Linked DNA regions of Homo sapiens: region 1 is linked to region 2. The links come from fine-mapping of genetic effects on gene expression. A gene starts in region 2. The other region holds a variant in brackets. All regions are shown on one strand. Distances are from middle to middle.

The links. PIP is the estimated chance that this variant, and not a neighbour inherited with it, causes the effect. A credible set is the group of variants that fine-mapping cannot tell apart.
Region 1: its variant is the best candidate, but not a certain one, in a credible set for the expression of POGZ in whole blood (INTERVAL, PIP 0.50).

The regions. Positions count from the first base shown.
Region 1 is chr1:151,386,464-151,390,854 of GRCh38, reverse strand. No RefSeq gene overlaps it. Among named protein-coding and RNA genes, the nearest start is that of PSMB4, 11 kb to the left of the region's middle. The variant T/C (reference allele first, on the strand shown) is at 2,180.
Region 2 is chr1:151,457,632-151,462,022 of GRCh38, reverse strand. POGZ (pogo transposable element derived with ZNF domain) reads left to right here and starts at 2,529. Exons shown (of 19, transcript NM_015100.4): 1 at 2,529-2,871. RefSeq lists an enhancer at 2,259-2,308 and silencers at 3,139-3,188, 3,379-3,428.

The DNA.
Region 1 (4,391 bases), 71 kb after region 2:
GATTGTGCCATTGCACTCCGGCCTGGGGAACAAGAGTGAAACTCTGTCTCAAAAAAAAAAAAAAAAAAAAACTTGATAGCACCTAATAAAACTGAAAATTACACATGCTAAATTACCCAATAAACCTATAACATAGAGACACTCACATGTACACGTTAGGAAACATTCAAGAATGTTCATCAGAGCATTGTTCGTAATAGCAAAAAAATAGAAACAGTCTAAATGCTCATCAAGGGGGAGTAGATAAAATGCAGTATATTATTACAAAAGAATACTACAAGGTAGCTTAAAGGAAAGAACCTAACATATCAAACACATTGTTGAGTGAACCAGATAAACCACAGAATGACATATATGATATGGTACCATCTGCGCTAATTTAAACACACAAAACAACACTAAGAATGTGGGCAGGCGAGGGTGGGGGATGCGCGCGCATGTGTGTAAAATTGAGTCATAGTGGCAGTTGAAAATGAGTTTTATATAGTCTTACTTATAATGACACTCTGGGAAAAAAGTAAGGAACTTCTGAAACATTTTCCAGCAATAAAAAATAAATGAAAGCGGCCGGGCGTGGTGGCTCATGCTTGTAATCCCGGCACTTTGGGAGGCCAAGGCGGGCGGATCACGAGGTCAGGAGATCGAGACCATCCTGGCTAACACGGTGAAACCCCGTCTCTACTAAAAATACAAAAAATTAGTCGGCGTGGTGGCGGGCGCCTGTAATCCCAGCTACTCGGGAGGCTGGGGCAGGAGAATGGCGAGAACACGGGAGGCGGAGCTTGCAGTGAGCCGAGATCACGCCACTGCACTCCAGCCTGGGCGACAGAGCGAGACTCCGTCTCAAAATAAATAAATAAAAATAAATGAAATCTGCCAATTATAATGGAATTAAAGCAGGAAGTAGGCTTTCCTGGGGAAAGGGGAGGAAGGGAGTAACTTGGTCCCTGGAAAGGGAAATGGTGGGTTGAGAGAGGTTATAATACGATTTTAGATTTCAGCATTACTATAAAATTTTTTTTTGACAGATGAGTTCTCACTATGTTGCCCAAGCTGGAGAGCAGTGGCTATTCACAGGCAAGATCCTTATGCCACTACAAATGGCTTTGAGACTTTGAGAGAGACTCTGTTTGTTTGGAAGAAAATACAAGAAGAGAATAGGAATTTCTACCTGGTAATCCAGAGAATTATTTTGGCTCTTATTCAGGACCACCAAGGTGGTACTCTATGAGGCTGCAGGGACCACAGCATTACTGAGCTTGGGGTGCCGCCTAATGCAGAGACAGCTTAGATGACAACACCTAAGTCCCTTCAAATACCTGGAAAGCCTTCCCAAGAAGGACAGGTACGGCCGAGCGCGGTGGCTCACGCCTGTAATCCCAGCACTTTGGGAGGCTGAGGCGGACAGATCACGATGTCAGGAGTTCAAGACCACCCTGGCCAACATAGTGAAACCCCGTCTCTACTAAAAATAAAAAAATAAAAAAATTAGCCAGGCGTGGTGGCGGGCGCCTGTAGTCCCAGCTACTTGGGAGCCTGAGGCAGGAGAATCGTTTGAACCCAGAAGGTGGAGGTTGCAGTGAGCCGAGATTGCACCACTGCACTCCAGCCTGGGCTACCCAGCGAGACTTTGTCTCAAAAAATAAAATAAAATAAAATAATAATAATAATAATAATAATAATAATAATAATAATAAGGCTGGGCGTGGTGGCTCATGCCTGTAATTCCAGTATTTTGGTAGGCCGAGGTGGGCAGATCACCTGAGGTCAGGAGTTTGAGACCAGCCTGGCCAACATGGTGAAACTCCGTCTCTACTAAAAATACAAAAATTAGCCGGGCGTGGTGGCAGGTGCTTGTAATCCCAGCTACTTGGTAGGCTGAGGCAGGAGAATCGCTTGAACCTGGGAGGCAGAAGTTGCAGTGAGCCGAGATAGCGCCATTGCACTCCAGCCTGGGCAACAAGAGCAAAACTCTCCCAAATAAATAAATATACAAAGTAAAAATTACCCAACTTCACTCTTTTCCCAAGTAACCTTCATTTTTATCTTGTGTCTTTCTAGACTGTTTTTATCCACATGCAAACAGAATTATTTTTTGGAATGGAATCGTGTTATATACAGTTTGGCAGCCTGCTTTTTGCTCTCAAATGTCTTGGCCCTCCTCCCCTGTATAGTCTAC[T/C]TAACTTGTTGTAATTGCTTCACAATATTCCACAGCACAGATATATTATGAACTATTTAACCATTTTTTTTCTTTTTGAGACAGGGTCTCACTCTGTCACCCAGGCTGGAGTGTAGTGGTGCAATCCATGGCTCACTGCAGCCTCAACCTCCCGGGCTGAAGTGATCCTCCTGCCTCAGCCTACTGAGTAGCTGGGACCACAGGCTCGCATCACCATGCCTGGCTAATTTTTATTTATTTTATTTTATTTATTTATTTATTTATTTTTGAGATGGAGTTTCGCTCTTGTTGCTCAGGCCGGAATGCAATAGCGCGATCTCAGCTCATTGCAACCTTCGCCTCCCAGGTTCAAGCAATTCTCCTGCCTCAGCCTCCTGAGTAGCTGGGATTACAGGCATGCGCCACCACGCCCAGCTAATTTTGTATTTTTTAGTAGAGACGGGGTTTCTCCATGTTGGTCAGGCTGGTCTCAAACTCCTGATTCAGGTGATCCGCCCACCTCGGCCTCCCAAAGTGCTGGGATTACAGGTGTGAGCCACTGCACCTGGCCTATTTTATTTTATTTTTGAGACAGGGTCTGGCTCTGTTGGCCATGCTGCAGTGCAGTGGTGGGTCACGGCTCACTGCAGTCTCCGCCTCCCAGAGGTTCAAGCCATCCTCCCACTTCAGCCTCCCCAGTTCCTGGGACTACAGGCGCCCACCAGCCAGCTAATTTTTATATCTTTTGCAGACATGGAGTCTCACCATTTTTCTCAGGCTGGTCTCAAATTCCTGAGCTCAGGCAATCCGCCTCCCTCGACCTCCGAAGTGCTTTTTTTTTTTTTTTTTTTGAGACAGAGTTTTGCTGTGTCACCCAGGCTGGTGTGCAGTGGTGTGATCACAGTTCACTGCAGCCTCAATCTCCTGGGCTCAAGCAATCCTCCTTGCCCCAGCCTCCCAAGTAGCTGGGAGTACAGGTGTGCCACCATGCCAGACTAATTATTATTATTTTTTTTTAGTAGAGACAAGGTCTTGTTATGTTGCCCATGCTGGTCTCCAACTCCTAGGCTAAAGCGATCCTCCTGCCTTGGATTCCCAAAATGTTGGGATTACAGGTGTGAGCCACTGGATCTGGCCTAACCATTCTCTTATTAATGAAAAGTCTTCTGTTTCCACTATTACAAATAATGCTGCAATGACAGTTATTTTTGTATATTTATGCACCTAAGTAGTTCTATAAAATAGAATCCTACAAGAGTTGTATTTTCAGTCAAAAAGTATGACATCTCATATTTTAAAAGTTACTAACAGCATTGCCCTCAAACAAGGGCACTTCAATGCATATGCCATTAATAATGCATGAGGGCCCTTCTCTCTCACCTTTCCAACATGAGATACTATCAGCCTTTCTAACTTGTGCCCAACTAATAGGGCAGAAAAATTGTCTTGGTCTAAACTGGCTTGTTAATCTTGATTGTGCCTTCCCAATTCCATTTTTTGTGGTATCACAATGTTAGCTTGAAAACAGCTGTAGTGGGAGTATTTACACCACAGAAACTGGCAAATGCTACAAATTAAACACACACACATACAAACACACACAACACAGTAAGGAAGGAAATATAGGTAGAAATTCCTGTTCTCGGCTGGGTGCGGTGGGCCATGCCTGTAATCCCACCACTTTGGGAGGCCAACGCGGGTGGATCACCTGAGCTCAGGAGTTTGAGACCAGCCTGGCCAACATGGTGAAACCCCGTCTCTACCAAAAATACAAAAAAATTAAATGGGTGTGGTGGCAGGCACTTGTAATCCCAGCTACTTGGGAGGTTGAGCCAGGAGAATTGCTTGAACCCCGGGGTGGAGGTTGCAGTGAGCCCAGATCACACCCAGGCTGAGATCAGCCTGGGTGACAGAGCGAGACTCTGTCTCGAGAGGAAAAAATAAATAAATAAATAAATTACTGTTCTCATGTTTTAAATTAAACTTTGTATTTTGAGATAATTGTAGGTTCCCATGAAGTTGTAAGAAATAACAGAAAGATTGCCCTTTACACAGTTTCTCTCAATTGATAACATCTTGCAAAACTATAGTACATTATCACAACCAGGATATTGACATTGACACAGTCAAGATATAGAACATTTCCATCACTGCAAGGATCTCTTTTACAGCCACATGCACTTCCTTCCCAACCCCACACCCCCTTAACTCCTGTCAACCACTGTCTGTTCTC
Region 2 (4,391 bases):
CTATATGACCTCTGAGACTAGGTCACGATCTCTGTCTGGTCCTTTTGGGGCACTCAGTCTTGGAACTCAGCCACTATGATATGAGGAAGCCCAGGCTACATGGAGAAGCCACTTGTAAATGGTCTGCCAACAACCCCAGCTGCGGTCCAAGCCAACAGTCAACCTCAACTTCCAGACATGTAAGGAAGCTTTTGAGATTACTTCAGCCCTAGCCACTGCATACGAGACTCCCAAGTGAGAACTGTTTAGCTGAGCCTAATTACCTCCCAGAACCATGAGAGGTAATGAAATTGTTGTTTTAAGCCACTAAGTTCGGGGTCATTTGTTATTTAACAATAGACAATAGAACAATTTGTTTATGTGTATATTTTATGTCTCTTTCCTTCTAGAGTATAAATCCCACAGATTCAGGTATTTGTTGTTGTTGTTGCTGCTGTATTCCCAGCACCTAAAACAGTGCCTAGTACATGTGCTCAATAATTTTTTTTTTTTTTTTGAGACAGGATCTTGCTCTGTCCCTCCCAGGCTAGAGTGCAAGTAGTGTCATCATAGCTCACTGCAGTCTCAAACTCCTGGCCTCAAGTGATCCTCCCAAGTCTTCCAAGTATCTAGGAATACCACAACCAGCTAATGAAAAAAATTTTTTGGGGCCAGGCACGGTGGCTCACGCCTGTAATCCCAGCGCTTTGGGAGGCGGAGGCGGGCAGATCACGAGGTCAGGAGTTCGAGACCAGCCTGCTTGGTGAAACCCCGTCTCTACTAAAAACAGAAAAAATTAGCCAGGCATCGTGGCGCACGCCTGTAGTCCCAGCTACTCAGGAGGCTGAGGCAGGAGAATTGCACCCAGCAGGCGGAGGTTGCAGTGAGCCGAGATCGCGCCACTTCACTCCAGCCTGGGGGAGAGAGCGAGACTCTGTTTAAAAAAAAAAAATTTTTTTTTGTAGAGATGGGATGTTGCTAAGTTGCCCAGGCTGCCCTCAGACTGCTGTGATCCTCCTCCCTTGGCCTTCCAAAGTGTTGGGATTACAGGTGTTAGCCACCATGCCCAGCCCCCAATAAATATTCATTGAATGAATGAATGGATGCATGATCCATTTTCAATAAAGCATGCTAACAGTTACTGGTCAACGGTATATGGCATAGTCTGCGCTAGATCTCATTGGCTGGGAGAATAAATTGACAGGGCATGGGGAAATATGTTGGAATTTTTCAAAGGTTAATAACGTAATATACATAATGTAAATATAACATATATAATGAATTATACTAATTACACGACAGTATAAAATAGGATTTGAGTTTCATGTAGTCTTTTGGTGATTGATCCCATAATCCTAATATGGGCTTCTCCAGATCAGGTCTGGAAAGTCTTCAGAAGTATTTTCAGAAGGATTTAGTGATTCTTCTCATTCAAATAATGAAGTCCTTCCTAAGCATCCTACACTAGTGGAAATCACTCACATGGTTTTGGTATGAAATGGAATGAAACTGGGTGGTGGCAGTGTGTGTATGTGTATGCACATGTGCACACTCACACGGGCAGGTGCATACAATTTGGAATGCCTACTTCCACTGCCTATTTTCAGTCTGGTGGTTTGAATGGAGTGTGTATATAAAGAGCACAAATAAACATAGTTCTGGATTTCCCCTTTCTGCACCAAGTACCTTGATTTCACATTTGGTTTGAAGCAAATATTTGTGTATTGCTTAAATAGCAAACATTTTCAAATATTCAAGGAAAATATTACATTTTTATAATCTCAGAAGGCAATAAAGGACAAAATTTCTTAGCTACCTGAAAAGAGGTAGTTTTTGTCTGGGGAAGAATAAACAGGTGGATGGTCGTTTGAGTGGACTAACCAATTTCTTTGAGCCAACCCATCTCAGCCTTGATTGGAGCAAAAAGCATAAGGATGTGGAGTGTGTGTGGTTTCTTGGAACTGGGGATCTCTGCTGAATCTACTCACAATGGGAGCAAAGCAGTTTCCATCACAATAATCGCTTTAACAATCGTGTGCCACTTCTTTCCAGGATCCAGAAGGGCTTGAGGATCAAAATGGCTTTTAAAAGTTCTTCACTTAAACAAGGCCGCAGCCACAAGGTTACTTGGCCGAGTGTCTCTTGAGAAAGAGTGAGTGCCATTTTGTTCTTTGTTCCAATGACAGTTGTTGGTGCCACTGGGCCTCACCACCTGGCCTGTGTCATGAAGTCTCCCTCTTGACTGGGTCTAAGCCTTGAGTGGAAAGTGGGGGAGCCTCCCAACACTTCCTTGGAAACTCTTGGCAAGTAAATTGGGGAATATTTTCTTTGGAAGTCTCATTTTTCTCACCAAAATTTAGATATAGCTTCTGAAGCTAATTATTCTTTTTTCATTACAAAAAATGTTTTCCTTTATTTATTTATTTGCAGGCCCAGCCAAACTTGACTAGAAAAGAAGCCCGGGCAGGGGTTTGGATGAGCCCATGACGTGCAGCGCGCTCCGACCAATTGGGAGGCCGTGAAAAAGGGGAGGGCGGAAGTGACGAGCCGTATCCCTCCGCGGGGCGAGAGGGTCGGTGGGGGGAGTCGGCGTCTCTCTCCCCCGCGCCAGCTCCCGTACACGGAGCCGCATTCCTTGGCCCCCCCACCCCCCTCCCTCGGGGCCCCCCCGCCCCCCTCGGGAAAAAAATCCACCCCGAATCACTCGAACCCGAGGGAGGCTTCCTTTCACCCTTGGGGAGACGAGCTTTCAACGGTTACCTCTTCTTCGTCTCCCCCCAAGCCCCCGTCCCCTCCCCCTGCTCCCACCCCCTTCTGGCGCCGGGTGTAAGGTCCCTTTAAGGCGACGGCGCCTTCCTCGGGTCAGACTACCGGCGGCGACGACCACAGGAGGTGAGTGAGCGAGCGAGCCTTCTCTCTCCCCACCCCCTGCTCCCGGGGGTTCCGTTATCTTTTCGCTCGGCGAGGCGTTCAGAGGCGAGACAATGAGAGGGGGATGGGGCCGGTACGCGCGGGGGTGGGGGCGGGGGGCCGGCGGTGCGCGCCCCCGCCCACCGCGAGTGGCGGCGCGGCCCGCGGCAGGGGCGGCCGCGGGGTGCGGCGCGCGAGCGCGAGTGTGTGTGCGTGCGCCCCGGGCCGCGGGAGCCGCGCGAAGGGCCGGCGGCGGAGGTCCCTGCCTGCCGGCTGGCCGGCCGCCCCCGCCCCCCGGCGCCCGCCGCGGCGCGCGCGCGCGCACTCGCGCCCCACGGCCCCGCACACAGCCCGACGTCCACACGCACGCTCGGCGCGAGGCGTCTCGGAGGAGTGGGCGGCGCGGGCGCGGGCGGTGGCCCGCTGGGGAAGGGGCGGGGGCGGGGGCGCGGGCGGTGGCGAGACGGCGGGGCGCGGCGGGAGGGGCCGGCGAGGGGGCGAGGCCGTGCGGCGGAGGGGCGGGCGGCGGCGGAGCGGCCCCTGGGGGTGGGGGTGCGCGGCCCTCCCCGCCCCATTCCCGCTCCGAGAAGGAGTGGGGCGCTCGTTTTGAGCGGGAGGAGGAAAATGAGTGATTGCTGAGCCGATCCCTTGTGTTATGTAATCTCTGCTTGGTCTAATAGTACATCCTAAGCCTTAGTGCACTGCAGCTAGTTTACGAAGTCTCCTCCCTCGGTCCCCAAATTTCTTTTGGGATGGCGCCGTGATTTATAAAATGGAATGAGGCGGGGAATCTTTATTTTCTGGTGATTATGTCCTGCCGCGGTGGGCGCCATGTTTATCCCGGGGACTATTTTATTTAGATTCTTGGCACCTTTTGCAAAGGAGTACTGTCATTGATCTATTTGTTTTCCGTCTTTCTGCGTGTTGTTCTTATTTCCTTCCTCTCCAGATGTGGGATTCTCTCAAACTGCTAGTAGCACTTGTCTTAGACATTCTTAGTTCAGAAAAAGGTAGTGCTGATGAGTCCTTAGAGTCATTTAGTGGCCAGTCTCATTTTCGAAATGGAAACTAAGATGCAGTTGGACTATCTCACAGCAGCCGCCGTCTTGATGCAAGCGGTGTAGCCCGTCCTTCCAAGCCCGTAGACACCTCTTACCGCCGCTCAAAACTCCACAGAAATGGGGTTTTACTTTTTTTTTTTTTTTTGAGACGAAGTTTCACTCTTGTCGCCCAGGCTGGTGTGCAGTGGCACGATCTCTGCTCACTGCAACCTCCGCCTGCCGGGTTCCAGTGATTCTCCTGCCTCAGCCTTCCTAGTAGCTGGGATTACAGGCATGTGCTACCACGCCCGGCTAATTTTTGTATTTTTAGTAGGGACGAGGTTTCACCATGTTGGCCAGGCTGGTCTTGAACGCCTGACCTCAGGTGATCCGCCCGCCTTGGCCTCCCAAAGTGCTGGGATTACAGGCGTCAGCCACCGCGCCCGGCCGGGTTTTACTTCT